Linked DNA regions of Homo sapiens. The protein of the gene in region 1 interacts with the protein of each later gene in a pairwise test. Each region holds a gene or a part of one and is shown in the gene's direction. Other genes may lie near its edges. The genes, in order: TSPAN2, KDELR3, ZFYVE27 and CLEC14A.

What was found.
Region 2: the proteins of TSPAN2 (region 1) and KDELR3 interact in binary tests that used the Homo sapiens proteins (3 or more experiments, as listed by UniProt).
Region 3: the proteins of TSPAN2 (region 1) and ZFYVE27 interact in binary tests that used the Homo sapiens proteins (3 or more experiments, as listed by UniProt).
Region 4: the proteins of TSPAN2 (region 1) and CLEC14A interact in binary tests that used the Homo sapiens proteins (3 or more experiments, as listed by UniProt).

The regions. Positions count from the first base shown.
Region 1 is NC_000001.11:115,086,440-115,094,872, reverse strand, and holds the start of TSPAN2 (tetraspanin-2), read left to right. Parts: upstream 1-5,369; 5' UTR 5,370-5,440; coding exon 5,441-5,509; intron 5,510-8,433. UniProt on the Homo sapiens protein: May play a role in signalling in oligodendrocytes in the early stages of their terminal differentiation into myelin-forming glia and may also function in stabilizing the mature sheath.
Region 2 is NC_000022.11:38,470,850-38,478,344, forward strand, and holds part of KDELR3 (ER lumen protein-retaining receptor 3), read left to right. Parts: intron 1-3,673; coding exon 3,674-3,774; intron 3,775-7,495.
Region 3 is NC_000010.11:97,731,997-97,740,274, forward strand, and holds the start of ZFYVE27 (protrudin), read left to right. Parts: upstream 1-5,131; 5' UTR 5,132-5,325; exon of another isoform or gene 5,326-5,329; intron 5,330-6,480; 5' UTR 6,481-6,481; coding exon 6,482-6,678; intron 6,679-8,278. UniProt on the Homo sapiens protein: Key regulator of RAB11-dependent vesicular trafficking during neurite extension through polarized membrane transport. Promotes axonal elongation and contributes to the establishment of neuronal cell polarity.
Region 4 is NC_000014.9:38,253,427-38,260,364, reverse strand, and holds CLEC14A (C-type lectin domain family 14 member A precursor), read left to right. Parts: upstream 1-4,271; 5' UTR 4,272-4,342; coding exon 4,343-5,815; 3' UTR 5,816-6,365; downstream 6,366-6,938.

The DNA.
Region 1 (8,433 bases):
TCATTAAAAATAGTTTAATAGCAAGAGTGGGAGCAAGGGCGGGAGGTGCCATGTTCTTTTAAACAACCAGATCTCACAGTGAACTCAGAGCAAGAACTCACTCATTATAGGGAGAATGCCATCCAGCCATTTATGAGGGATCCACTCCCATGATCCATACCTCCCACTAGGTCCCCCCTCCAACACTGGGAATTACCATATCAGCATGTATCAGTGTGTGAATTGGGGCACATAATTCAGAGGGGCTTTAAAGAATTGATTGTCATTGCTATAAAAACATCTTCCATCTTTATCTACTTATTTGTCTAAACAGAGTTTTTCAACATTAATATCAAAACAATGAAAAATATTAAGGGAATTTATGGTCAGCTTTGTGGTTCTAGCAATAATATTCGTTCATGGATATATGAACTAGTAGAAAAAAAAATACCAACCCCATCAATATCATTAAGAGATGCATTTCCAGCAATATTTTACCTTTAAGTTTAGTGACTGTTTATTTAAAACTATATTTTAAATTTAGTATACAATTTTAACCACTTGGATACCAAAAATAATTTTAACAGTAACTTAATCTAGAAGAAGTTTGTCCAACCCGTGGCGGATGGTTTTGAATGCTGCCCAACAAAAATGCATAAACTTTCTTAAAACATTATGAGTATTTTGTGATTTTTTATCTCATCAGCTATCATTAATGCTAGTGTATTTTATGTGTGTCCCAAGACAATTATTCTTCTAATGTGGCCCAAGTAAGCCAAAAGATTGGACACCTCCGATCTAGAAGAACTTAGTTAACATTTACAGCCTTATGGTCTCAGGGGAAAAGTTTAATTTCTTTTAATAAACATAGTAAATTTTGTTCAGACAAGTATAAAAGGACATTCAAGAAAAATCATTCAAGCATAAACATGCATTAATTTAGGATGACATTTTGTAAAACGGAAATACAAGTTCAAGGAGCAAAAGGAAAGATTAAAATTTTCACCCTATTAAAGAGGAGCTTGCTCATGTATTTTTAATTATTTATTTATTTATTTATTTTTGAGACATGGTCTCATTCTGCCACCTAGGATGGAGTGCAATGGTGCAATCTCAGCTCACAACAGCCTAGACCTCCCACGCTCAAGTGACCCTCCCACTTCAGCCTCTGGAGTAGCTGGGACTACAGCGAGCACCACCACACCCTGCTAATTTTTTTCATTTGTTTTGTAGAGATAGAGCCTCACTATGTTGCTCAGGTGGTCTCAAACTCCTGGACTCAAGTGATCCTCCTGCCTTGGCCTCTCAAAGTGCTGAGATTACAGGCGTGAGCCATCATTCCTGGCCTTGTTTATGTATTTTTTAATCGATGATAATAGGTAGCAGATCATACTGGCATTCAGTTTCTACTGGATGTATTAAAATGAGTAATGTGGCCATTTGATTTTAAAAGTCAATATTTAAGACACACCAGAAATGACATCTCTGAAAATATTCAAACTTATAATAAATAATTTTACCTGCAACTTAAAAATGTGTGAGGGTAATACTATACAATGCCATTTATATGAAGGTTTAAAACAGGCAAGTGTAATCTATAGTGAAAGAAAATCAGAACAGTGTTTGCCTTTAGGAGGGATGTGGGCATAGATTGACTGGGAAGGGTTATATGAAAGCCTGAAAGCTTCCTGGGGTGACAGTAATATTCTATATCTTAATAGGATTCGGGGTTAGAAAGGCAAAAGCATTGTCAAGAATTATTAAATAATATACTTAAAATGTGTACATTTCATTGGGGTAAATTTTAGAAAAATAGTAAATAGATATTTGAACTCTAGGTAATGTTATGCATGCTCAAGAGTTTAGGAGTGAAACATACTGCCTACAATTTATTTGGAAATAAATAAAAAAAAATAGATTGAGAAATGGACAGATGTATAGATAAGTAATGCAACCAAAGCAAAATGTTTATTGTAGCATCTAGATGGTGAGTATATGGTGCTCCTTGCCCAACTATTTCAAATTTTTTGTACGTTTGAAAATATTCATAATAAAATATTGGGAAAAAATGCAAGAGAAAATATTTTTGTAACTATTTTAGGGCATGTGTGGGCAACAGTTTTAAGACCACTGGCTTCTATTTATCACCATTTGCTGAAGAATCTTTACCCTAAACTTACCATCCAAACCTTTCTCCAGAATCCAATCATATTTCCACATCATCTGGATTTCCCACCATATCTAAAACTCAGCAGATCCAAAAATGAATGTATTGTCTTCCCTCTACCAGTCAGGAATATCTTTAGCTACATGTAACAACACAAAGTCAAACAAAAAGAGGGTTATTTTTCCTATATAATAAGAAATGTGGAGTTAGGTAGCTGCTGGTATTGGTTCAGCAGTTCCACAATGTCCTAGCTGGAAGGTCTGCAATTGTCTTGCCCTTTCTTCATAGTCACAAAATGTTCTAGCACTTCAAGCATCATGTCTGAGTTCAAGACAGGAAAAAGAGAAAAGGGAGCAATGCCAGTGACAGTTTAAAGGCTAACTTCCTTATTATGTCATTTAATGTAGCCCTGTACTTTCTTATAGTAATATACCCTTGAAAATGTATGGAATGCCTTTCAGGCACAATACATACATATATGTTGATGATGGCAATTCCTCATGTTGGAAGTGGGACCTTGTGTGAGGTATTGGATCGGAGTGGATCCTTCATGAATGGCTGGATGCCATCCTCCCTATAATGAGTGAGTTCTTGCTCTGAGTTCACATGTGATATCTGGTTGTTTAAAAGAGTGTGGAACTCCCCACTTCTTTTGCTCCCACTCTCGCTGTGTACACACTGGCTCCCTGTGACCTTCCACCACAACTGAAAGCTTCCTGAGGCCTCACCAGAAGCAGATGTCAGCACTATGCTTCCTGTACAGCCTGCATAACTGTGAGCCAATTAAATCTCTTTTCTTTAGAGATTACCCAGTCTCAGGTACTACTTTGTAGCAACACAAGAATGGACTAACACACATGCGTCCACACACATACACATACATGTACACAAAAACCTAAACCTCAATTGGCTTCAGAAATGGCTAACTCAGTTATGGCGTAATATCACCTATGACTCTGGTTTTTTCAACTTCCTGCTTTGCTGTTTTCAATGTTGGATCTCTCCTCAGGCTGGTATGAAGATGGATATAGCAACTCTATGTATACCATCCAGATCCAACAGCTTCAAGAGGAAGAAGACCATCTGGCCCCTCAGTAGACACCACTCCCATCCCATTAGTCAGGATGCTTGTCAATTTGTTTCCTGAACTAACTACAAGGGAAATGGGATTACCTTCGCCTATTCCTCTCAAGGGTCAGCTTCCCTTAAGACATACAACTTTGTGAAAGGGCGACTGGGCAAGTCTATACTAAAGATCTGAAACTGTTATGTTGGACAGGCAACCACCATCTGTCTCTAATACATGTGTGCTAAAATCGTAGCATGAAAAAAACAAACAATAGATGTATATGTTACAATAGGGGTTCTCTTCCCTCTATATAATCTCTAGACATATTTTGTCTTAGAGATGTAAAATTCAACGATATATTTAAAGTATAATATCATTGTTCATTCAGTTGATTTACTGAACGCCTTCTATGTACCAGACACTACTCTTTAACTTAGTTCTTTTCCTTTATACTAAAACAGAGGTGACAGATATAGAACTATAAGTGTTTGATTGAAGCTAATGATTCACTTCTCTCTGCATACCTAATGACTTCCATCTTTGTCTTTATTTCATTGTTGGAGACATGTTTATTACTAGAATCAGCACTTTCATTTTTCTGTCTTTGACTCGTTTTTATAAATGAGTCGATATTCAAACAAATGTCCAAAGACACAGAGGTAGGCAAAGATGGCAACATGGTAGAAACTGAATGGTTGACTGATAAGAGTGTGATACAATAATACTAACCCTTATGCAGTACTTAATCTGTGCCAGGCACTGTTCTAGGCACTTCACAAATACTAACTCATTTATCTTCACAACTCTATGAGGGGAGTACTATTACCTCCATGTTGCACGTGGGGACACTCGGGGCCAATGACAGTTTGGCACATTGGTCAGCCGACTGAAAGCTGTGATTTGGCTCCTGCCTTCCTGACTCACTCTGCCCCCACCAGGCTTCACTCGGGCTAACTGCGGTTCTCAGAACTCCCTTGGAGGCCTTGTTCTCTCCAGCTCTGTGCTTTTGCGCATGCTGTCTTCCTGGACTGATCTTTTCCGCCTGGGCTCCGTCTTCTAGACCAGATCAGGCCCCTCTCCTTAGCAATGCCTTTTCTGGTTAAGGCAGTCAGGCCAGGCACACCTGTCTAGCACCCAGCCCTTCTCTCCTCACCCTATTTGCTTACAGATCTGTCTCCAACACCAGAGACTGTGGTTCTGGGCCTGGCTGTCTCCTCATTGTTGAGTCCCTGGGGCTTGCTACTATGTCTGGCCTATAATAGGCACTCAAAGTTTTGCTGAATTTATGCATAAGCTCTCCGAATTTTGCTTTCTTGTCTCCCCCATACTGTCTGACACCACATATTGTAGACACTTAGTCAATGGAAGTGGGAGTCTGATTTTCCTGCCAACAGCCTAACTTAATAAAAACAAAGCAAAACAAAAACCGCCCCCTTCCCCTTTCTCCCATCTCCACATCATAATTAAGATCCCGAAAATTTGGGATCCTTCCAAGCCCTCCGATCAGTGGAACCCGGCAGGACATGAGAAGTCAGACTCCCTCCACTGGCCGGCTGGGTTGAGGGCAGCCCACAGGACTCAGGGCGCCGCCTCCCGCACCCTCTCTCAGTTCTTGCCTATTAAGGTAAGAGTCCCCCGAGGAGGGGGGAGGGGCCGGAGGGAGGGTCCCCTAGAAGCTGCTTGTGTGCTTGCTCCGCGCCGCGGAGCCGCAGCCCTGGACACTCAGTCAGGTGCCCCGCGACTGGTCCTGCCAGCTTCGGGGCAACCTCCGACCCCACTTAGCTCTTCTACCCGAGGTCACCTTCCTAGATTTCCATAGCCACGAGACCAAGTGCTTATCCCTCAAGCATCGCCCGGGCCTCAAACCGGTCTCCGCACAGGGCGCTGATTAAATGGGTCCCCAGTCCCCGGTGGGCGCTCCCGCCCTGCAGGTGCTCCGATAGCCGGCGGCGGTGCGCCCACTGGAGGGAAGGAAGGTGGTCCCTGGGTCCGGGAGAAGAGCGAACGTGCTCCCTCGGGCTGCTCGATCTCCACCCGCTGGCGCCCCCACCCGTCGCCAGCCACGCCGCTTGGGGTCCACGCGCCCCTCCCCGCCGGGCCCCGCCCCGCCCCCCGGAGGCCCCGCCCCGGTCCTCCCCGCTCCGCCCCCTCCCCGCCGGAGCCTGCCGCTCCCCGCGCTCGTAGCGCGGGCCTGGGGACTGGGGATCCCGCCGCCGGGCCGCAGCATGGGGCGCTTCCGCGGGGGCCTGCGGTGCATCAAGTACCTGCTGCTTGGCTTCAACCTGCTCTTCTGGGTGAGACCAGGAGCCGGGAGGGCCGGTCAGGGCAGGGGGCCGGGTGGCGGGCGCGGGGCCGGGGTCCCCGAGCTGCTGACTGCGGCGTCCGAGTCGCGCTCGTGGGGAGGGCTGGGTGCTCAAACGCGGAGGCGAGGAGAAGGCAAACAAAGAGGGAGGGGAGGGATGGAAGGGAGAGAACGGGAAGACAGAAGGTTGATCAATGAGAAATGGTGAGAAGGGGAGAGACACCGTGTGGCTCTTTCCTGGAAGGAACCCCCACCTGCCTTGGTTTTTATCTCCCAGCTAGTGACCCCAGGTGCGGGGACCCAGCCTCTCCTCACCTCCGGAGGACTTGGGTCCCTGTTCCCCTCCAGTCTCCCGTGCACACACCCCCTTTTCACTCTGCCTACCAGCTGGAACCAGGGCCTGGCCAGGGTGATGGGAGAGAAACCCCTGCCCTGGGGCTGCCTGGGGTGGTGCTCCATTCGAGTGTGTGGACACTGTACCTGGCTGTGATGGTTTTGTTTAGGAAATTGGAGATAGGAGTGAAAATTGTGGTGGGGGGGCGTCGTCCTTTTTCTGGGCATCAGGGTAAGAGTACCCCTGGGTGAGAGGAGGTGGTGGGTTCTCTTCTGAGAAGGGGATGGGGAATGGAAGGGCTTCTAAAGGGCAGCAGCAGCTCTCCACAACCCCCAGCCGCAGCCTCTGCTAAATACTAATTCTCCCAGAGATGATCTCATTCAACTTTGCAGGGTTTGATTGAACTGACAGCGTTCCCAGGATTCATGGTTCACAGAGAGATAGGATCTTGACCCTTGTCTCCTATATTATCGAGACAGGGATACAGCTAGACCAGACCTACATCCCTGGATACCCTGTCCCAGGGCCTGCAGGACTGTGAGACAAGGTCTGAAAATTGTCTTTTCTGCACATTTCCTCTTGGGCTTTCTTAAGAGAATGTCAGCCAGTGTAACTGCTCAGCTAGACCCTGAGGGGAAACATTGGATAAAGAGGTTTGAGAGCAGCCAGGGCCTGGGTGCTTTGAAACTACCAGGTTGGAGGAGGTGGCTGTCCTATCTGCTCTGGGGGACGTTGTCTTCCCATGATTGCAACTAATTAATTATTGAATGATGGGCTCCTCTTTTGTCTGTCAATCCATTAGCCCAGATGCCTGGGTGACTTCAGCAACTCCAAGCTCTTCAGTATCCTTCAGCAGTGGAAGGTGTGAAGGAGGTACCTCCTCGACATCCCCTGAACTTTAAAGAGACACATGGCCTTTGTACACGTGGGGATTTACATCAAGCATACTATAGGGAGAGGCGTTTCTGAAGACCCTTTATGTTGTATTTTTTAGGAATCTGGCTTAATTTCAGAAGCTGTTAATTATAGATGTCACGCCACAGTGACAACCTTCATTCTCACTGCTTATGAATTCAAAGCCTTATGAAGTTTTAAGCCTGAGGAGGAATTCTTAAGCTGGGTTCAGTGCTTATTTAGTGGCTGATATTGTACCAGCCTTTCCAGTGATAGCTGGAAGGATTCATTGAATGTTTTCAATGTGTCAGGGACAGTGCTAAGCATATTACTTTCATTATTACACATAATCCTCACAAGAGTCCTGATATACATATACTATTATTATCCCCATTTTTTACAGATGAGGAAACAGGCTCAAATTGGTTAAGTCACCTAAGATCACACAGCTAGTGAGTGGCAGGGATGGTATTCAAACTCAGCCTACCTTCTCTTTTTTTTTTTTTTTTTTTGAGACGGAGTCTCACTCTGTAGCCCAGGCTGGAGTGCAGTGGCCCGATCTCCACTCACTGCAAGCTCCACCTCCCAGATGCACGCCATTCTCCTGCCTCAGCCGCCCAAATAGCTGGGACTACAAGCACCCTCCGCCACGTCTGGCTAGTTTTTTTGTATTTTTAGTACAGACGGGATTTTACCGTGTTAGCCAGGATGGTCTCCATCTTCTGACCTCATGATCTGCCTGCCTCAGCCTCCCAAAGTGCTGAGATTACAGGCGTGAGCCACCGCGCCTGGCCGCCTACCTTCTCTTAAGCACTGTGGTACATTCAATTAACCAGTGGTTCTCAAAAGTGGTTCCTGGGCCAGCAGCATCAGCATATCCTGGGAATTTGTCAGAAATACAAATTCTCAGGCCGGGCACAGTGGCTCATGCCTGTAATCCCAGCACTTTAGGAGGCCAAGGCAGGCGGATCACCTGAGGTCAGGAGTTCGAGACCAGCCTGGCCAACATGATGAAACCTCATCTCTACTAAAGTACAAAAATTAGCCGGGCATGGTGGTGGGTGCCTGTAATCCCAGCTACTTGGGAGGCTGAAGCAGAAGAATCTCTTGAACCCGGGAGGCAGAGGTTGCAGTGAGCTGAGATGGTGCCACATTGCACTCCAGCCTGGGCAACAAGAGCGAAACTCCATCTCAAAAACAAACAAACAAACAAACAAAATTCTCAGCTCATCCCAGACTTGCTGAATCAGAAACTCTGGGGGTAGGATCCAGCAATCTAATTTAACAAGCCATTCACATAATTCTGATCCATGCTCAAATTTGAGACCCATTCTGTTAAACAATGATTAAACAAATAATAATTTATAAATATAAACACAGTTCCCTAAGCTGCTCATCTCATTGAGGAAACGAGACCAGTGGATATGGAACAACACAAAAATAAGACAGTGTGGAATCAAGTGACAAGTTTCACACTGTTGACCGTAAGCACAGTAAGGAAAGGAAGTAGGAGCAGTGCAGTTTTAAGTGCTTGAATGTGTTAACCAGTGAGGTTAGATCCGACCTTCTCTATATGTGATCTAAGTAAGGAGTTTAGAGAAAGGATCACAGTCATGATGAGGAGCCAGAAAAGTTCTCCTTAAGAAGGAGCTATTCGAGCTAAACCTGGAAGGACTGGTAGAATGGAG
Region 2 (7,495 bases), on another chromosome or scaffold:
AGATCACCGGGGGGCTGGGCACAGTGGCTCACACCTGTAATCCCAGCACTTTGGGATGCCAAGGCGGGTAGATCACATGAGGTCAGGAGTTCAAGACCAGCCTGGCACGTGGCGAAACCCCGTCTCCACTAAAAATACAAAAAAATTATCTGAGTATGGTGGCAGGTGCCTGTAATCCCAGCTACTCATGAGGCTGAGGCAGGAGAATCGCTTGAACCTGGGAGGCGGAGGTTGCAGTGAGCTGAGATTGCACCATTGCACTCCAGCCTGGGCAACAAGAGCAGAACTCTGTCTCAAACAAACAAACAAGCAAAACAAAACTGAAGATCACAAGGGTTCCCAAAGTGCTAAGGAAAATGTGAGTAAAACCCAGGGGACTGGCAGGCTGAGGATGAAGAGAAAAGAGGGGTAGGGGAAGGCCCAAGCGGGTGACCAAGCGTCCCCCACCAGGGCTGCCTCCCAGGCAGTCCTTCGTGGGGCTGAGGGCTTCTCTGTCAAAGTCTGTGTGAGGGCTCAGTGAGATGAACATCAGGCCATCCCAGAGCTGGCCTCAGGTCAGTATGGCCTCCCCCAGTGGGGTTCATTACCCACTGCCAGCCCCACTGTTGCCCTCACCCCGGCTAGTGCACGTGCGCGCGTGCTAGACCCCCCAGAGGGACTCAGGTTCTCACTGAGCACTGTGTATTCCTCAGCTCAGTCCTGCCACTCTGCATGAGGGGCCGTTTGGCAGGTGAGGAATGTGAGACCGAGGCTCGCCCTAAAGCCAGCACATTCTCCAGAATGTTAGGGACTTCAGGGGTGTTCCTTCTTGCTCATTAAAAATGTTCCCCCAGGCTGGGTGCAGTGGCTTACCCATGTAATCCCAGCACTTTGGGAAGCTGAGGCAGGAGGATCACCTGAGCCCAGGAATTTGAGACCAGCTTGGGCAACATGGCAAAATCTTGTCTCTAGAAAAAATATAAAAATTAGCTGGGCATGGTAGCATGTGCCTGTAGTCCCAGCTACTCAGGAGGCTAAGGTAGGGGGGTCATCCGAGCCTGGGAGGTTGAGGCTGCAGTGATCTGTGATTGTGTCACTGCACTCCAGCCTGGGTGACAGAGTGAGACCCTGCCTCACAAAAAAAGAAAAAAAAATGTTCTCCCACCCCAAATGTCTGGAACCAGAGGGATGGTTAGAGAAGGCACAGTTCAGGGGTACAGGGGAACCAGACCCTGAATTAGACAGCACAGTAGTTCCCCCTTATCCACGGAGGATATGTTCCAAGACTGCCAGTGGATGCCTGAAACCACGGGTTAAACCAAACCCTATATATATACTGTTTCTTCCATCTGATAACCAAGACTGCTGTCCGGGCACAGTGGCTTACGCCTGTAATCCCAGCACTTTGGGAGGCCGAAGTGGGCAGTCACTTGAGGTCAGGAGTTCGAGACCAGCCTGGCCAACACGGTGAAAACCCATCTCTACTAAAAACACAAAAATTAGCCGGGCATGATGGTGGGCGCCTGTAATCCCAGCCACCCGGGAGGCTGAGGCAGGAGAATGACTTGAACCCGGGAGGCAGACGTTGCAGTGAGTCGAGATCGCACCACTGCACTCCAGCCTGGGTGACAGAGTGAGACTCTGTCTCAAAAAATAAATAAATAAATAAAAAGTGGCCAAAGGACACTAAGGAGCATGACAACAAAATGCAGCATGGATTCCGGGATGGAATCCAGGAATGGAAAAAGGGCAGCAGTGGGAAAACTGGTGAAATCAGAATAAAGCCTGGAGTTCAGTCAACAGTGCTCTACTGATGTTGATTTCTTTGTTTTGATAAAGTACTGTCACTAAATACGATGTTTTTTTGTTTTGTTTTGTTTTGTTTTTTAAGACAGAGTTTTGCTCTTGTTGCCCAGGCTGGAGTGCAATGGCACGATCTCGGCTCACTGCAACCTCCACCTCCTGGGTTCAAGCGATTCTCCTGCCTCAGCCTCCCAAGTAGCTGGGGTTACAGGCATGAGCCACCACACCTGGCTAATTTTGTATTTTTTAGTGGAGATGGGGTTTCTCCAAGTTGGTCAGGCTTGGTCTCAAACTCCCAACCTCAGGTGATCTGCCCGCCTCGGCCTCCCAAAGTGTTGGATTACAGGCATGAGCCACCGCCCCCGGCCCAAATACGATGTTAACACTAGATATAGCTGGATATGTGGGATTCTCTGTACTGTCTTTACAACTCTGTTGTAAATCTAACATTCTTTCAAAATAAAAAGTTAAAAAAAGAAAGAGACCAAAGTGGGTCAAGAAACAGCATTTAGACTGGGCGCGGTGGCTCACGCCTATAATCCCAACACTGAGAGAATGAGGTAGGAGGATCACTTGGGCCCAGGAGTTTGAGACCAGGCTGGGCGACATAGTGAAACTCTGTCTCTACAAAAATAATAATAATAATAATTAATAATAAAATTTGCCAGTCTGATGGTTTGTGTCTGTAGTTACCAGCTACTCGGGAGGCTGAGATAGGAGAATTGTTTGAGTCCAGGAGATAGAGGCTGCAGTGAGCTATGATTGCACCACTGCACCCCAGCCTGGGAGACAGAGTAAGACCCTTTCTCTAAAAAGAAAAAAATAAAAAAGAAAGAAACATCATGGAGAGTATGAACCCTTTTTTGTCAACTCAGTGCATCCATGTGCATCATATGTGTACACATAGGTGTCATGTGTGTACATGTTCACAAAGATATGGAAGGATGAACACTAGGGGTTTGGAATATTTTTATCTTTGCATCTTTGTATATTGTTTGATTTTTGTTTTGCAAAGAGTAAATATAGGCATAACTTTTGTAACTAGAAAAAAGGCTTTTTGGCTGGGCGTGGTGGGTCATGCCTGTAATCCCAGCACTTTGGGAGGCCAAGGCGGGCAGATCACTTGAAGTCAGAAGTTTGAGACCAGCCATGACCAACCTGGCGAAACTCCGTCTCTACTAAAAATTCAAAAATTAGCCAGGCGTGGTGGCAGGCACCTGTAATCCCAGCTACTTCGGAGGCTGAGGCAGGAGAATCACTTGAACCCAGGAGGCAGAGGTTGTGGTGAGCCGAGATCACGCCACTGCACTCCAGCCTGGGCAACAGAGTGAGACTCCATCTCAAAAAAAGAAAAAAGAAAAAAGAAAAAAGGCTTTTTAAATCTTACAGTTTGAAAAATAAAATAGAATGCTCCCCTGGCCCTGAACCTTCCTCTGCCTGCTCTGGTCTCCCTGGTGAATCAACACCTTGTAAAGTCAGTGAGTTGTTCCTCCTAAGACTGAGCTTTGGGGACTGTCAGTGGAACTCTGGGGGTGGAGTGAAGAGAAGCCTCAACAACCCCCACCAAGCCCGACTCACACCACCCCCGACATCCTCCCCAGAGCAAGAGCCCAGGCAGGCACACGCAGGGGGACTGGGAACTCGGTGTTCGTGTCTTTATTTGGAGACTGGGAGACAGATTACAGTTTAATGAGAGGAACGACGACTCAAGTGATCCGATGGGAAGGGTGAGTTTCCTGGCCCTTAGGGAGCGACAGTGCCCTGGACAGGAGGTCTTTGAGTGGGAGTGGACACTCTAGAGGCCTCCCCAGCTCCAGGCTGTGCACCTCTTGAGGGTGGGCAGGCTTGGGAGTCTGTGTCCTCATTGTCTCCTGTCTACCCTTGGCCACAGGCATCTCTGGGAAGAGCCAGATCCTGTTTGCTCTCGTCTTCACCACCAGGTACCTGGACCTGTTCACCAACTTCATCTCCATCTACAACACAGTAATGAAGGTGAGGGGCTGGGTGATGATGGTTGGGGGAAGCCACCAAGCCCCCACAAACTGTGAGGTAGCCTGCTTGGAAACTCATTCTGTGGAGCCAGGCCGACCTGGGTTTGAATCCTGACTTTGCTGCTTAGTGGCTGCAAGACCTCATCTTGGGCCTCTTTGTATGTCAGTGTCCTCGTGCAAAAATGAGGACAGGGCTGGGCACTGTGGCTCATGCCTGTAATCCCAGCAATTTGGGAGGCCGAGTCGGGCGGATGGAGACCATCCTGGCTAACAAGGTGAAACCCTGTCTCTACTAAAAATACAAAAAATTAGCCGGGCGTGGTGGCTCATGCCTGCAGTCCCAGCTACTCAGGAGGCTGAGGCAGGAGAGTTGCTTGAACTTGGGAGGCGGAGGTTGCAGTGAGCCGAGATCGCGCCACTGCACTCCACCCTGGGTGACAGAGTGAGACTCTGTCTCAAAAAAAAAAAAAAAAAAAAAAAAAAGACAGTACCATTACTTAGCTCAGAGGGTTTGGTTGGGAACATTAAATGAGATAATAAATGTAAATGTAAAAAACCCTGCCATATATTAAACATTCAATAAAGGGTCACACCTGTAATCCCAGCACTTTGGGAGGCCAAGGCGAGAGGACCGCTTGAGCTCAGGAGTCTGAGACCAGCCTGGGCAATGCAGTGAGACTCCGCCTCTACATAAAATTTAAGAAATTTAGCTGGGCGTAGTGGTGCTCATCTGTGGTCCCAGCTACTCAGGAGGCTGAGGTGGGACAATCACCTGATCTTGGTAGATCAAGGCTGCAGTGAGCCATGATCATGCCACTGTACTCCAGTCTGGGCAACAGAGTGAGATCCCGTCTCAAGAAAAAAAAAATTATTTAGGTGATAGAGAAGGATTAGAGAGCTACTTCAGGGAGTGTGGTCAGGGCATCTTCAAAGAGATGACATGTAAGCTGACAGCTTAGTGACAACAAGGAACCAGCCATGTAAAGATCAAAGGACACACCTTCTTTCTGTTTTTTTAAGACGGAGTCTCACTGTTTTCTGTTGCCCAGGCTGGAGTGCAGCAGCGCAATCTCAGCTCACTGCAGCCTCCACCTCCTGGTTTCAAGCCGGGAGCTTGCCTTGTGCCTCAGCCTCCCAAGTAGCTGGGACTACAGGCATGTGCCACCATGTCCAGCTAATTTTTGTATTTTTAGGAGAGACAGGGTTTCTCCATGTTGGCCAGGCTGGTCTCACGCTCCTGACCTCAAGTGGTCCACCCACCTCGACCTCCCAAAGTGCTGGGATTATGGGTGTGAGCCACCATGCCCAGCCAAGATGTAGATTTTAGTTGGACACATTATCTAATAGGAATCTTATTTCTTGTGCAGTGGTGCGATCATGGCTCACTGCCTCAACTTCCCGGGCTGAAGGGGTCCTCCCACCTCAGACTCCTGAGTAGCTGGGACTACAGGCACGCACCACCATGCCTGGCTAATTTTTTTGTATTTTTAATAGAGACAAGATTTCACCATGTTGCCCAGGCTGGTCTCAAACCCCTGGGCTCAAGTGATCTGCCTGTGTCAGTCTCCCGAAGTTCTGGAATTACCATGATCAGCTAGGAGTCTTTTTTTTTTTTGAGACGGAGTCTCGCTCTGTCGCCCAGGCTGGAGTGCAGTGGGGCAATCTCGGCTCACTGCAAGCTCCGCCTCCCGGGTTCACGCCATTCTCCTGCCTCAGCCTCCCGAGTAGCTGGGACTACAGGCGCCTGCCACTGCGCCCAGCTAAGTTTTGTATTTTTAGTAGAGACAGGGTTTCACCTTATTAGCCAGGATGGTCTCGATCTCCTGACCTTGTTATCTGCCCGCCTCGGCCTCCCGAAGTGCTGGGATTACAGGTGTGAGCCATTGCGCCCGGCCAGGAGTCTTCTTTTTTGTTGTTGTTGAAATGGAGTCTTGCACTGTGGCTCAGGCTGGGGTGCAGTGGTGCAATCTCGGCTCACTGCAACCTCTGCCTCCTGGATTCAAGCAATTCTCCTACCTCAGCCTCCAGAGTAGCTGGGATTACAGGCACCCACCACCACGCCCGGCTACTTTTTGTATTTTTTGATAGAGACGGGGTTTCACTATGTTGGCCAGGCTGGTCTCAAACTCCTGACCTCGTGATCTGCCCACCTTGGCCCCCCAAAGTGTTGGAATTACAGGCGTGAGCCACCACACCTGGCCCCCCCTTTTTTTTTTTTTTTTGAGACAGAGTGGAGTGCAGTGGCACGATCTTGGCTCACTGCAGTCTCTGCTCCCGGGTTCAAGTTATTTATTTATTTATTGTTTAGACAGAATCTAGCTCTGTCGCCCAGGGTGGAGTGCAGTGGCGCGATCTCGGCTCATTGCAACCTCCACCTCCCAAGTTCAAGAGATTCTGCCTCAGCCTCCCGAGTAGCTGGGATTACAGATGTGTGCCACCATGCCTGGCTAACTTTTTTTTTTTTTTTTTTGTATTTTTAATAAAGACGGGGTTTCACCATGTTAGCCAGGATGGTCTCCTGACCTCGTGATCTGCCCACCTCGGCCTCCCAAAGTGTTGGGATTACAGGCATTAGCCACCATGCCCAGTCTTTTTTATTTTGAGACAGTCTCCCTCTGTTGCCCAGGCTGGAGTGCAGTGGTGTGATCTCGGCTCATTGCAACCTCCGCCTCCCAGGTTCAAGCGAATTCTCCTGCCTCAGCCTCCTGAGTAGCTGGGATTACAGGTGCACACCACCATGCCTGGCTAATTTTTGTATTTTTAGTAGAGACGGGGTTTCACTATGTTGGCCGGGCTGGTCTCGAACTCCTGACCTCGTGATCCACCCTCCTCGGCCTCCCAAAGTGCTGGGATTACAGGCGAGAGCCACCGTGCCTGGCCTAGGAATCTTATTTCTAAGGAACAAGGGTTCCATGGGGGAATTCTATCTTGCAGGGCTATTGAGAAGATCACATGAGATAACATACAGCACCTAGAAAATATTTAACTAAAGTGAGTTGTCCTTTTCTTCCATATCAGAGACATCCCTTTGGGATTTCAGGCATGTTGTTACTAGTTGGTAGAGTGGAGGTTGCTGTTACTTGTGAGGTGTTGAACTCATTCAGATTTAGTGAATGTGAATCTGAGGACTGGAAATCACCGTCTACTTAAGTTCACACATGTATCAAACATCACCTGCTAGTTCATTTCTCAGCCCAAGTCAGCCTTGGGCATTCCTGGCAGAGACAGCAGACTCAGCCCTTGCCATAGCTGAATGAGGTCTAGGAAGCTCAAAGAGGCTAGTTTCTACATTTATGAAATGAAAAAGTGACCACCTCATTCACTCATTCCAGCATTTGTTTTGTGCCAGGGACTGAGTTAGGAGCTGGGGATTAGGAGGTGGACCTTGCCACGGAGTCCTCTCTTAGAGGGGAGATGGACTTGTACCTAGACATTTACAGAGCATGTGATCACGGGCTAAAATGAGTATGTTCACATGGAGCTATGGCGACAGAATGTGTGCCTCATTGTAGTGAAAAAAAGACTGCTTCGAGGAAATAACTCCAAATAGGAGTACAAATAGGAGTGCTCTAGGCCAGTGTGGTCCTGCTCCGGCAGTATCAGCGTCACTTGGGAAACTTGTTAGAAATACAAACTTTTAAGGCTGGGCTCGGTGGCTCATGCCTATAATCCCAGCACTTTGGGAGGCCGAGGCGGGCGGATCACCTGAGGTGAGGAGTTCG
Region 3 (8,278 bases), on another chromosome or scaffold:
CCAGCCTGTTCTCCTCAGCATTTCCACCTAGTATTTCTCCAAGGGCCACAGTGAGGTTTATGAGTCAAGTATGTGGGCCATAAACACACTTGCTTATTGAAGCAAATACTAACCTCTGCAAAATGTCAAGGTAAGATATTATCTTCAGTGATTATTTAATTTTCTCCCTTAGTCTCTTCTACCTGTCTGCTACCAAGGGGAAAACATCAGCAGCACCAGGAGTTGAGGCAGAATGCTGCAGGAGGGAAAGAAGGAACTAGAACTTGATTATGGAAAAATCAGAATTAGACTCGAGAGAGCACAGTCAAGCTGGTCCGTCTCTTAATTATAAGGGGAGGCCTTTATTCATCGCTACAGGCCACGACTATTGTCCCTTTCTGGTTTTTAAAGCCTTCTTGTATCCTCCAATGTTCCCTCCAGATAATGTCTAGAAATTCTTGAATAATATCTCTCAATTCTATAGCTGCTGGAAGAGAAAACAAATACTATTACTCTCCACTGTCAGACTGAGGCCAAGGAGGAGGAATTGCAAAGAAACTAAAATTTACCTTTGGAGTAAATTACCAGTGTGAGAATTTCAGGCACTTAGGATATATATATTATTATTATTTTTTCGAGACAGAGTCTTGCTCTGTCGCCCAGGCTGGAGTGCAGTGGCACGATCTCCGCTCACTGCAACCCCCGCCTCCTGGGTTCAAGCAATTCTTCTGTCTCAGCCTCCTAAGTAGCTGGAATTACAGGCACGCGCCACCACACCCGGCTAATTTTTATATTTATTTATTTATTTATTTTGAGACGGAGTCTAGCTCTGTCGCCCAGGCTGGAGTGCAGTGGCATGATCTCGGCTCACTGCAATCTCCGCCTCCTGGGTTCACACCATTCTCCTGTTTCAGCCTCCCCACTAGCTGGGACTACAGACGCCCACCACCATGCCCGGCTAATTTTTTTGTATTTTTAGTAGAGCCCAGGTTTCACCGTGTTAGCCAGAATGGTCTCGATCTCTTGACCTTATGATCTGCCCACCTTGGCCTCCCAAAGTGCTGGGATTACAGGCGTGAGCCACCGCGCCCGGCCTGATTTTTATATTTTTAGTAGAGACGGGGTTTCACCTTGTTGGCCAGGCTGGTCTCAAACTCTTGACCTCAGGTGATCTGCCCGCCTCAGCCTCTCAAAGTGCTGGGATTACACGTGTGAGCCACTGTGCCTGACCGGTACTTAGGTTATTAAAGAAAAAAATTTATTTTTCTTAAGAAGGGTGGGGACTCCTTAGCTTAAATACTACATTGTTGAACACAAAACTTTCCCCATCCTCTCACTTAGATTAAGTCTGCCTCTTCTCTCTGCTCCTACGGTTACAGTAGAATCCCCTGCTTTATATCATGGCTCAGTCAAGTCAGCGTCTTCTGTTGAACTAAGAGTTCATAGAGGGTAGAATTTCTGTCCAGTTCATTCTTGCTGGTTTCACAGTCATTGTTTTAAGAAATGATTCATGACCAGCCTGGGCAACATAGCAACACCTCATTCTACAAAAAAAAAAAAAAAAAAAAAATTGGCCAGGCACGGTAGCTCACACCTGTAATCCCAGCACTTTGGGAGGCTGAGGCAGGCAGATCACGAGCTCAAGAGATCGAGACCATCCTGGCCAACATGGTGAAACCCCGTCTCTACTAAAAATACAAAAATTAGCTGGGCGTGGTGGTGTGCACCTGTAGTCCCAGCTACTCGGGAGGCTGAGGCAGGAGAATCGCTTGAATCCGGGAGGCGGAGCTTGCAGTGAGCCAAGATCGTGCCACTGCACTCCAGCCTGATGACAGAGTGAGACTCCGTTTCAAAAAAAAATAAAAATAAAAATTAAGTAGCTAGGTGTTAGTGGTGTGCACCTGTAGTCCCAGCTCCTCTGGAGGCTGAGGCAGGAGGATTGTTTGAGCCCAGGAATTAGAGTGAGCTATGATTGCACCATTGCACTGCAGCCTGGGCAGCAGCAGAAGACCCTATCTCAAAAATAAAATAAAATTACATTAAAAAAGGAAAGAAAGATAAGAAAAAGAAAAAAGAAATGGGCATTGTTCTGGGGCTTTTGTTGAAAGAGATGTGAATTCTGTGCTCCAAGAGGAAACTGACACGCATGCGCTCATTCAAGGAACATTTGTTGGTACCTCCTTTGTGCTAGATGCTGGACACAGAAATTATAGGCAGTTCCCTCAGGACTCTCACTGTCTAGAGAGAGGAGGAGGCACCAAGTGCTGGGGTGGGGCAGGCCCACGGAGCCAAGTCAGAAGGGCACGTAATCCAGACAGTGGCTGCTGATGGGGAAGGTGTCAGAGAAGTCTTTCTTCAGGGGTGAGATCTGAGCTGAATTTTGGAGGAAGAATAAGAGCTGGCCAACTAAAGAATATGGGGCGCAGTGGCTCACGTCTGTAATCCCAGCGCTTTGGGAGGTCGAGGCAGGTGGATCACCTGAGGTAAGGAGTTTGAGACCAGTCTAGCCAACATGGTGAAACCCCATCTCTACTAAATACAAAAAATTAGCCAGGCATGGTGGTGCATGCCTGTAATTCCAGCTACTTAGGAGGCTGAGGCGGAAGAATCGCTTGAACCTGGGAGGCAAAAGTTGCAGTGAGCCAAGATTTCTCCATTGCACTCCAGCCTGCGCAACAAGAGCAAAACTCTATCTCAAAAAAAAAAAAAAAAAAAAGGTGAGAGTAGTCTGTAGAAAGGTACAGTAATGGGAGAAGGTGTGACATATCCGAGAACTGCCAGAGTTGAATACACCAGGCTTTGGTTTTATCCTGGAGGTCACAGGGGGCCACTGAAACTATCCACCAAGAGAGTGGTCTGAGAAAGGTACAGAGGGGTGGACAGGGTGGGGGATGGGAGTGGGTGGGGAGTGGCGATGGCCTATCCTGGAATTCAGACCTGAGGCCAGGTTAGGAAACGAAGAAGAGGGGCCTTCAGAGGCTATCTGCATGACAGACCCAGGAGCTTTCGGGGAAAAGACCCATCCTAAGGGAGGAGAGGCAGAGTCCAGCAGATGGGCCTGGACCACCACAAAGCTCAGTCCATTTCTCTAAGGGGTGGTGAGTGGATTTCTGTATATGGCTTAGTGATATGTGTGGGAATTGGATCTTTCTACATTTTGGCCTTTCGTGGATTCTTGTCTGATTTTTGGGCTAGGGGTGGTGGTGGTAGGGCTTTGAGTAAAAATAAAAATCACAATGATTGCTAACGATTTTTGAACACTTATAACATGTCAGGAATTTACATACTTTAGCTCATTTAATTCTCATCACAGCCCCACACTGAGGGTACCACTATGGTTATCCCCATTTTACAGCTGGAAAAACCAACCAAGCAATTCATCTGAGGAGAAGCCCTCCTACCTTACTTATGTTGGGACTGGCGCATGCCGGGTAATTGACAAAGTCAACTAAAGCAGGGAGCTTTGAGAAAAATACCTACACAGGGTAAGCATTTACTTTTGGGACAATCGTCAATTTATACATAGTTATAAGAACTAACACAGGGTGATCCCACAGACTACCCCCCAATGGTAACATCTTGCAACCCTTCTTAACAGAATGCCTACTATGTGCCAGGTACTGCTTTAGGTGCTGGAGACATAGACACGGGAAACGAAACATTAGCTGACAGAAGCCACAAGAGTGAATGAGATCCTCACGGAGTGCCTTGAGTCAGAAGAAAGAAGGGTAGCAAAAGGAGCCCCAGCATTTGAGGGGTAGGAAGAAAAGCCCTAAGGAGACCTTGAAGGTCGGAAAGAGAGGAGAGGGTGGTGTCATGGAAGCTAAGGTGGACAATGGTGCCAAAAAGGAAAGAGATTCCAGTGCTTCTGAGGTCATCTGCAAGGAGGACTGGGAAGTGTCCATTGGATTTAGCAGCCAGGATGTCACAGGTGAGCAGGCAGGTAGCCCAGAAATATGGAGGGGAGCAGGACCACAGTGCAGTGAGGAGTGAATTGGGCGAGGAAGCAGCGGTAGAGAGCACTTCACAGTGAGTCTTCCAACTCATGTAGGAAAGAGGGGGTAAAGTTAGGCTAAAGGAGAAATTTTCCATGAATTTTGTCTCTAGAATGATGATTAAGAGTTAGCGAGAGTCAAGATTTCAGGCCTGTTAGAGCAAAGCCCTAAGGAAATAAGAGTTGGACCCTGGAGCACAGCTAAGTCCTGGCTGGAGGGATGGGCCTGTCTTTCTGAAAGGAGATAATGGAGGAAGAGATGCAGTTAAAGCTCTGTGGCTACTTGAAGAGGGAAGTGATTACTTCCAGCTGGGGCACTCAAGGAAGGGATACAGACATTTGAGTGCCAGGGGCATTTGAGGGTAACAGTGGAGGGGTTCAGTTGGCCAAAGTTAAAGGCAGCTGAAAGATGGCAGGAGACAAGACCAGGAAATGCAGACCAAGGTGGGTGGTGGTATGGTTGGGGCGTTGGGGTCAGATGACACATAAGCTTCAAATTCCAGCTCCCATTTGCTTCTTAGCTGTGACTCTAAAGAAGTTCCTTAACACGTCTGAGATTCCCCATCTGTAAAATGGCGACAACCCTAATAGGGTCGTTGGAGGAGAACTAGATAATGTCTAAAAAGAGCTCAGTCCGGTTCAGTGCTTGGCTCCTCTGTACCTGAGCGCTAAGTCACTAATATAAAGCCATCGGATGTGTGCTTTAAGGGAAATTAACTGGGCCACACGGTGTGAAGTGAACTGAGCTGGGAGAGGCCTGCACAGGACCTTGTACACACTAGCTACTCCGGAAACAACTGCATGCTCTGCTGGGCATCTCATACAGGATACGGTGTCTTTCCGGGGCTCACACACAGTCCCCAGTTCAGTTCCAAAGTTGGAAGGAAAGAGGATGAAGACGTAAATTCTTCATTTAAGCCTCTCGCCAACTGTTCCCTGCGGCAAGGCAGGGCAACGAGCTGCAGGGTCGCCAAGCACGTGCTTCCAAGGGTCCTCAAGGCTTTGTGAACGGCGGCCGGCCAAGGACAGAATTAACTCCAGCCTGGAGCGCGCGGGAAAGACGCGCAGGCGCACTGCTGGCAAGGGTGCTTGCCTGTGCTGGGGTGGGCGGAGCTAAACCCGGAGCGGGATGACGTCATGAGGACGCAGCCGCAGAGCGATTCGCGTCCCGGAAGCGGCGGTGGCGGCCGCGGCGTAGGCGGAGGAGATTTTCGGACCTGCGACTTCCGAACAACCCTGGCAGGAGGAGCGGCGTTCAGCCGGGGGAGGCCTGAAGAAACGCTCCGGGGCCCAGTGGCTCTACCCCTGCTCCTGCCCGACCCTGCCGCCTCCCTCACGGAGCCAGCGGCCGGGTAGGTGAGGTGCCGTCCCCCCGCGTCCCAGTGTCTCCGCAGGCTGTGTGTAGTTGGGTGCTTGGGCGCAGCGGGGGCCGCCACATGCTGGCCCCACGACCTCGGGCATGGCCTTCCCTGTCCAGCCTCACGGGCTCCATCAGGCCCCCCTGGCTGCAGAGGTGTTGGCCAAGGCCAGTGCGGGCGTCGATATACCTCGCCCCTTCCTGGGCTCATACCTGGCGCCGCTCTGTGCCCTTTCGCCTTGGCTCGGCCTGCGGGGATTTCGGGGTCCCGTTGGCCCCTTTGTCCCATCCCCTCACCCTCCCATCAGGTCGCGGCTGATTGCCTGGGACTGGTTTATGTTGCTCTTCGCCGAGGTTCCGCCCCCTCGTTTGCTGCTTAGAGTTCAGGATAGGACTTTGAACTGGGAAAGACCGTAAAGGCTCCTCGGTTTCCTCATCAGAAAGGGCAGACGGGAATGGGGCGTTCTGATGCCGACTGCCCTGGGGCAGAGATGGCCCAGGAAGTTGTTGGGAACCGAAGGGAGTGGGAAGAGTTAGAGGATCGGGCGAGAGTCCTGGAGCACGGTATTTCATTCACTCATTCAGCAGGCATTTGTTAAGCACCCACTGTGTACAGAAGCAGTCGTGAATGGAGGCCAGTTAAGAGCAGGGAGTTTTACTTTGACGTGGTCAGTGCTCTGCACTTGATCTTAGCCACAAGGCCAAGAAGCGATGTGATGTGATAAGTGCTCTGTTAGGGTGAGTACGTGATCCTTTGGGAGCATCGGAGAGGGTCTCCCAGTCCAGAGTTGGGGGTGTTGGCAGAGACTTCCCAGAGTAAGGGAGTGATGTTTAAGCTGATACCTGAAGGATGAGTAGGAATTAACCAGGTAAAGAGTGGGAGAAAAATGTTCCAGGACATCATTTCATTTCAGCCCATGGGCTGCCTCGCTGCAGCGATCATTTATGCTTGGTTTTTATGATTTTTAGTTTTGATGGATCTTTGGGGAAAAGAGCATTGGATGGAGAGTACAAAGAACAGGATTTTAGGTCTGAATAGTTCACTTTCCCTTGCTCACAGGTTTACTGTTGGCACCACCTGAATCTGTAGGTAGAATTGTGTTGAGGACTAGACGTGCAATGCAAATGTTGGGAATTATTATGGTTACAGGATGCAGACATCAGAACGTGAGGGGAGTGGGCCGGAGCTGAGCCCCAGCGTGATGCCCGAGGCTCCCCTGGAGTCTCCACCTTTTCCTACCAAGTCCCCAGCGTTTGACCTTTTCAACTTGGTTCTCTCCTACAAGAGGCTGGAGATCTACCTGGAACCCTTGAAGGATGCAGGTGATGGTGTTCGATACTTGCTCAGGTACAGACTTTGTGGAGTTGCTCTGGTCTGCTCTGCCTTCTGCCGTCCTGCTCTGTAGTAACTAACACTGACCATTTAGGCAGTGGCTGGGCTGTCCTTTCTGCCCTAGTGAGGAGCAGTTCTGGGAGGTCTGTTCGGCCTCTGGGTTTATCTAGGCCTACCCTGTGTCTCAGGCCCAGCCCAGGAGAGGCAGATACTGGGAATGATCCTGCCTTTCAGCAAGGTTCTTCTTTGTGACTGAATAAGCTCCTTCCTCTGGACTGCTGGACAACCTTGAACATCACGCCTTCTACAGCTTAGAGCAGGCTTAATTTTTTCCTTTGCCCCCAATATTAGCATAATTAATATTAAAAAATTAGGGTATAATTTTGAACAAAAATTAAAGAAATACAAAAACCTGTGAATAAGCAGATACCATTTTCACTACTTTTTTTTTTTTTGAGACAGAATCTTGCTGTATTGTCCAGGCTGGAATGCAGTCGTGTGAACATGGCTCACTGTAGCCTCAGCCTCTTCAGCTCAAGCGATCCTCCTACCTCAGCCACCATGCCTGGCTAATTAAAAAAAAAAAAAAATTGTAGAGAGGCTCTCACTGTGTTGCCCAGGCTGGTCTTGAACTGTTGGGCTCAAGTGATCCTCCTGCCTCAGCCTCCCAAAGTGCTGGGATTACAGGTGTGAGCCACTGTGCCCAGCCCATTTTTACTAATTTATTGAGATTATGGATCTTAACTTTTTCCCTCCTATCCTGCTTTGATTTTCATTCTCTATAATTTTCATTTTTTCTTTTGACTCATTTTATTATGTTAAAATTATTTTAAATTACTTATATGGCATTCTACTCCCTAAATATGTCAGTTTTTATCTCTAAATAAGGACATTTCTTTCAAGATCAAAGTAACACCATACCTAACAAAATTAATAACTCCTTGATATCATCCTATACTCAGTTCATATTCCATTTCCTCAGTTGTACCATCTCTTTTGGCTAAATCACATTTCAGTCCAGGAGTGTGCATTGTTTGTACTTATTATGTCTTTTAAGTCTTTTTTCAGTCTAAGACAATCTCTCTCGTGACATTGATTTGCTGAAGAGACTGAGCCTGAACTGACTTTCCTGGAGAATTTACTACCGAGATTTGTCTGGTTTCTTCCTTGTGGTGCAGACTAGAAGTTAGATTTAAAGGTTGGATTTGATTGAAGTTAGAAAAGTGTTTTTTTTTTTTTTTGCAAAGGTAAATGTTGTGCCCCTGGTGTTGCATTGCATCAGGAGTCACACAAAAACCTGATTGTCCTAAAGAGCAGAGGTTTTTAACTTGGAGCCTATGGGTGAGTTTTAGGGATCAGTGAATCCCCTGAAACTGCATGTAAAATTATGTGTCTGCACATGTGTGTATTTCTAGGGAAAAGCTTCTGGTTTTCATCAGATTCTCATAAAGACCCTCAGTCCTCTGAAATACATGAGAGAGACTGGTAGGAAGCAGGGTGAGTGGAGTTACGTTAACCTCTGAGGATGCCATTGAGTATTTATCCATGCCTCAGTCTGGAAATAGTGGATGTTTTGTTACTAGTTCTCTGGCAAAGGCCCTACATTTTTCTTGTT
Region 4 (6,938 bases), on another chromosome or scaffold:
GTTTTTGTGCTGATTCTTTCTTGTCTGGGAAGGTTGGATGTTACTTTAGCTATGATGTAAGTTGACTGTAGTCATTTCTGTATGTTTTCAGAGGGCTAAGGCTCTTTACAGGGACTTTATTTGTGGCTGAATTCTTGCCCTTGGTTTCAGTGGGTGGTATATTAGCAAAATATTTTTGGAATTGTAGTTTGGGCTGTGATTCAGGAGATAGCACTTAAGAGTAATGGTTGGTAGATAGGCACTTAGGTGTGCAGCTCTTTTGTATTTCCTCACATTTGCAGCAGTGCTCTGCAGTGCAGGGTGTGCTGGGAGAGAGGTGACTCCACTACTAGGACTTTTCCTGGGCCTTAGGGGCGCTCCCTCTGATCACTGACACCATGCCTACATTTCTTTTGTTAGGTGTTCTGAGCCACAGGGATTCATCTAGCAGAGGCCATGGCAGAGACATGGACCATACCTTTTTCAGACTGTCCCTGCAAAGGGAGGTATGTCCTGCTCCTTTGCCAGCCCAAGAAATCACACATCTTACCCTTCTTAGTGCTCTGAGAATGTGGGCTTCTCCCCTACTTGAGTGCTGGCCAGTGATCTTGGTTCAGCACCGCAGAACTATGTGCTGTAGTCCTGGGGAGCCAGGACCGGCTCATGGCTCCATCCTCCGGACCCTTGGGCTTAGGTTCTAGGTGCGCTAGGGTATCTGAAATGCTCCCAGGCCACGAGGAATGCACTCAGGTGGAGCAAAATGCCCAGGCTGGGTAAAGAAAATGTGGCACATATAAAGCATGGAATACTTGCAGTCATAAAAAAGGATGAGTTCATGTCCTTTGCAGGGACATGGATGAAGTTGGAAACCATCATTCTCAGCAAACTAACACAAGAACAGAAAACCAAACACCGCATGTTCTCACTCATAAGTGGGAGCTGAACAATGAAAACACATGGACACAGGGAGGGGAACATCACACACCAGGGCCTGTCAGGGGGTGGGGGGCTAGGGGAGGGATAGCATTAGGAGAAATACCTAATGTAGATGACAGGTTGATGGGTGCAGCAAACCACCCTGGCACGTGTATACCTATGTAACAAACCTGTATGTTCTGCACATGTACTCCAGAACTTGAAGTATAATAATAAAATAAAGAAAATATACTGAAAATATATTTTAAACATAATTAACATTTTGATTTTATTTTTACTTTTCATTTTGAAACTCAACCACTCAGAATTAAATTAATTTTAATTCCTGCTTCATGTCCATTCACTTATTTATCCAGATATAGCCATTTTGATTTATTTGTTCATTACTAATTATTTATTTTTAATAATGGAATAAAGATTCCATTATTTGGGTAGTGACACAAAGCCACTGCACAAAACAAAAGCTAGGACTCTATCAACAGCCCATATCAAGCCTGCTAGTTCCCCTAACATTCCATCCTTCTCTTTCCTCTCACCCAAAAGGCGCATCACTAAGAATCTTATGTTTATTGTTTCTTTTGTCTCATTTTATTGTAACTATTTTTCTAAAGAATACACAAACATATATCTAGTACTGTTCTTTTAATTGTATAAAAATGTCAGACTCTGTATCGTTTTTGGAACTTCTGTCCATTAACATTGTATTGCTAAAATAAATTCATATTGTTACTTGCCACTATATTGTACTAATTTTTACTCCTATATAATATTAAATTAGTGAATATACTACAGTTTATTTTTATACTGTTTTTGGATATTTTGATTGATTCAACGTTTTGTTAATATGAATAGTGTCACTATAAACATTTTTTACATATCTTCTGTTGTACATGTGCAAAAATTTCTCTTAGTTTTATACCTTATCATGGAAGTGCTAGAGTTTGCAAATATTCAATTTTAGTGAAAAAAAGTGTCAAATTTTTCCAAAGTGGTTGCTCTAATCTGTAACATGTAAAAGAGCCAATAGATTCACATTTGGTATTATAAGATTTTTAGGCATTTGGAATCCAGTGGGGGTAAAATGGTTCTATATTATTATCTTAATAAATATTATTAAAAAATAGAAACTTTCCTCCATTTCTAATTTGGTCAGATAAACTGTCTATTTCAAACTAATTACAAAACTATTTACGTCCTACTTTGAGCTAATTTTTTCTAACTCTTGTGTCATTCCATGATATGGTCATGGTCATGGTCAGTACTCTCATATAGTCGTTATGGCCAATGTGTTCTCTGCTATAATCCCACTCCCCTAGACAGAATGTCAGGGAGTGAGATCATGTATTTACTTAAGCTTTCCAGCTATTCATTCTTTCTTACTGTAGACACCTCATCTCATCCCAAACGATTTTTAAAGCTATCTAAGAAATTTCCATTGACTACTTAAGTTTGAAAAAGATTTTATTAAAAATATTGCACTACATGGACACATTTACAAACACAGTCATAAGATTGCAATGGTCTATAGAGAGCTGGCCCAAGTGACTAAGTATTTTTTAAAAACCATTCAATTTGATTTCTGGATTTTCATGTTTCTTTCTTATAAGACACTAAGTTACCTAATTTAAACGCAAAGCCACGTTTAAGGTGATTCTCAGACATCTGAAGGAAGGACTAAGGAATGTTCTTTAAATTGGGAAATAGGGCAGGAGAGAAATCCTAGTGCAAAGCTCCATACTCAGCAAAAGCAAGGTAAGTATGATGATGACTCATAGGCTTACTGTTGTTTGTTAAGATACATGGAATTTCCAGGAGGAAAGAAGAATGAGAGTTATGGTAAAAATAAGATGGAAGCATACAGATGTGATCCTGAAACCTTCCCTCCCACCCCTCATCAACCTGAATGCAGTAAAACAAAGTGAGCTTATATGCATTATCCATGGAATGGCAACTTTCATTCTGATTAAAGATATTTAAAAGCATCAGACATCTCTAAGAGGGCTTAGCTGAAACTCTCTATGTATTTCTGATGGCAACGTATTTGGCCATTATGAACCAAGATAGAATGTACGTTTTCTAAACTGATACTGAATTGTCTAAGTTGCTAACAAGAAATCCTTTCATAACAGTACAGTTTTTAACCTTTACTTCTTTATTCATCTTTAATTCCTTGCCACTTCCCACTGAGTTGAAATGTTTATATTAAAACAAAACACCCACTGGAATTCTAAAGAAATTGGCTCACCCATCTTTCAAATTACAAGATATTTTTTGACAGTATACAATATTCATTATAATGGAATAAACATTTTAATTTCTTAAGGAACTCTAATTTTCCTTAAAGGAGATGTTTACAACTTACTATTATAAATGCTGCCACTCAATCATAGGAGAAAATGATACTAAAATAGTTCAAGGCTAAAATCACACATAGGGCAGTTGTTCTCGAATATTTATAAGGCCACGAACTCATTTATGTATAACCTATAAACTTGAAGAATTTTTGAACCAATACAGTGGCAAGGAAAGCTAACAACCTAACTGTTAAGATCTATGGTCATTATTTTTCATTTAGTCCTAGAAATACATTTCCTTTCTGTAATGAATCAATATGGTCTAACTCAAAGAGAAACACGTGGAAGTGAAAAATAAATTTCTAAAGCAAGTGCTGATGGAAGAAGCAGAATTTCCCATTTAAAATACCCAAACAACTCCAAATTCTTTAGTAGTTAGGACTCCTGAAATCTCTTGACATAATAGAGAAGCAAAGACCCATAGAGAGATATGCGGTTAAATAGTGCTGCCTCTGGTGGCAAAAGCAGTTGCTAAGTTGTTTCACAACATATTTTTCCCCCACAGGCACAGGCCCCCCAAACACTGGAGCCGTCTACGAATTATTCTGACGCTAACTCCACAGCTCCGGACAGAAACACAATAGACGGGCGTGGTCTTATAATCATAAGCCAGTTCCTTTCTCAAGTCCTTCCTGCCTATGTTCGCTTACGTGTTATGGGTTCTGCGGTCCTGATGAAACTCCCTGAACGGAGAAAAACCACACACTTCATCCCAGTGGCGAATTTCTCCTCTTGCTCTAAGCAGGGTGTTTGACCTTCTAGTCGACTGCGTCCCCTGTACCCGGCGCCAGCTGTGTTCCTGACCCCAGAATAACTCAGGGCTGCACCGGGCCTGGCAGCGCTCCGCACACATTTCCTGTCGCGGCCTAAGGGAAACTGTTGGCCGCTGGGCCCGCGGGGGGATTCTTGGCAGTTGGGGGGTCCGTCGGGAGCGAGGGCGGAGGGGAAGGGAGGGGGAACCGGGTTGGGGAAGCCAGCTGTAGAGGGCGGTGACCGCGCTCCAGACACAGCTCTGCGTCCTCGAGCGGGACAGATCCAAGTTGGGAGCAGCTCTGCGTGCGGGGCCTCAGAGAATGAGGCCGGCGTTCGCCCTGTGCCTCCTCTGGCAGGCGCTCTGGCCCGGGCCGGGCGGCGGCGAACACCCCACTGCCGACCGTGCTGGCTGCTCGGCCTCGGGGGCCTGCTACAGCCTGCACCACGCTACCATGAAGCGGCAGGCGGCCGAGGAGGCCTGCATCCTGCGAGGTGGGGCGCTCAGCACCGTGCGTGCGGGCGCCGAGCTGCGCGCTGTGCTCGCGCTCCTGCGGGCAGGCCCAGGGCCCGGAGGGGGCTCCAAAGACCTGCTGTTCTGGGTCGCACTGGAGCGCAGGCGTTCCCACTGCACCCTGGAGAACGAGCCTTTGCGGGGTTTCTCCTGGCTGTCCTCCGACCCCGGCGGTCTCGAAAGCGACACGCTGCAGTGGGTGGAGGAGCCCCAACGCTCCTGCACCGCGCGGAGATGCGCGGTACTCCAGGCCACCGGTGGGGTCGAGCCCGCAGGCTGGAAGGAGATGCGATGCCACCTGCGCGCCAACGGCTACCTGTGCAAGTACCAGTTTGAGGTCTTGTGTCCTGCGCCGCGCCCCGGGGCCGCCTCTAACTTGAGCTATCGCGCGCCCTTCCAGCTGCACAGCGCCGCTCTGGACTTCAGTCCACCTGGGACCGAGGTGAGTGCGCTCTGCCGGGGACAGCTCCCGATCTCAGTTACTTGCATCGCGGACGAAATCGGCGCTCGCTGGGACAAACTCTCGGGCGATGTGTTGTGTCCCTGCCCCGGGAGGTACCTCCGTGCTGGCAAATGCGCAGAGCTCCCTAACTGCCTAGACGACTTGGGAGGCTTTGCCTGCGAATGTGCTACGGGCTTCGAGCTGGGGAAGGACGGCCGCTCTTGTGTGACCAGTGGGGAAGGACAGCCGACCCTTGGGGGGACCGGGGTGCCCACCAGGCGCCCGCCGGCCACTGCAACCAGCCCCGTGCCGCAGAGAACATGGCCAATCAGGGTCGACGAGAAGCTGGGAGAGACACCACTTGTCCCTGAACAAGACAATTCAGTAACATCTATTCCTGAGATTCCTCGATGGGGATCACAGAGCACGATGTCTACCCTTCAAATGTCCCTTCAAGCCGAGTCAAAGGCCACTATCACCCCATCAGGGAGCGTGATTTCCAAGTTTAATTCTACGACTTCCTCTGCCACTCCTCAGGCTTTCGACTCCTCCTCTGCCGTGGTCTTCATATTTGTGAGCACAGCAGTAGTAGTGTTGGTGATCTTGACCATGACAGTACTGGGGCTTGTCAAGCTCTGCTTTCACGAAAGCCCCTCTTCCCAGCCAAGGAAGGAGTCTATGGGCCCGCCGGGCCTGGAGAGTGATCCTGAGCCCGCTGCTTTGGGCTCCAGTTCTGCACATTGCACAAACAATGGGGTGAAAGTCGGGGACTGTGATCTGCGGGACAGAGCAGAGGGTGCCTTGCTGGCGGAGTCCCCTCTTGGCTCTAGTGATGCATAGGGAAACAGGGGACATGGGCACTCCTGTGAACAGTTTTTCACTTTTGATGAAACGGGGAACCAAGAGGAACTTACTTGTGTAACTGACAATTTCTGCAGAAATCCCCCTTCCTCTAAATTCCCTTTACTCCACTGAGGAGCTAAATCAGAACTGCACACTCCTTCCCTGATGATAGAGGAAGTGGAAGTGCCTTTAGGATGGTGATACTGGGGGACCGGGTAGTGCTGGGGAGAGATATTTTCTTATGTTTATTCGGAGAATTTGGAGAAGTGATTGAACTTTTCAAGACATTGGAAACAAATAGAACACAATATAATTTACATTAAAAAATAATTTCTACCAAAATGGAAAGGAAATGTTCTATGTTGTTCAGGCTAGGAGTATATTGGTTCGAAATCCCAGGGAAAAAAATAAAAATAAAAAATTAAAGGATTGTTGATAACCCAGACTCAAATATCATTGCCTTCCTCCAGGAGTAATTAGGAACAGCTGAGGGCATGCTGGGAGTAAGCAGCAAGAGTGCATTCTGCTTTTAGATTGAGGGAGAGGTCCTTAAGTTCCTCGAATGAGACACAGATCTTTAAGAACTAGTAACTTTTTCATTGATTCTTTTATCCTTTCTTTTCAAAGTCACTGCTACTTGTGTGCTTTGCTATAAATCGAAAGTGTAGTGTTGCCAGAATTGCTGGCTCTGGAAGAAAATTACAGTTGACCACCAGTTCAAGTGTTTACTTTATGTCCATGCCCAAGGAAAACACATAATTTGCGTTTTCCCTTTCCAGTGTTTGTGCTTTCCAGCGTAATGACCTCCCCAAGCAAATAGCCCTCTCCTGAACATCAAGATGCTCATCCTCATCTTCAATTATGGTGATGTTAATTCTCAATTAAAATGTTAATGCTAAGTATTGATTTGCAATCTTCTGGTTGCATCAAAGAAAAAGTAAGCTGGTTTTCCTCCAAAGTTGCTAAGTTCTTGTGCATTTTTCAACCCATGGAAAAACTTGAACACCAAGCCATTTTCTTTTTCTCTTGATAAGAATGTGTGCAATAACAATACTTGCTCATTTTGGAGTGATTATAATCTTACAAGTGTTTACATGGGCAAAGGCATGGTAAACAGTTT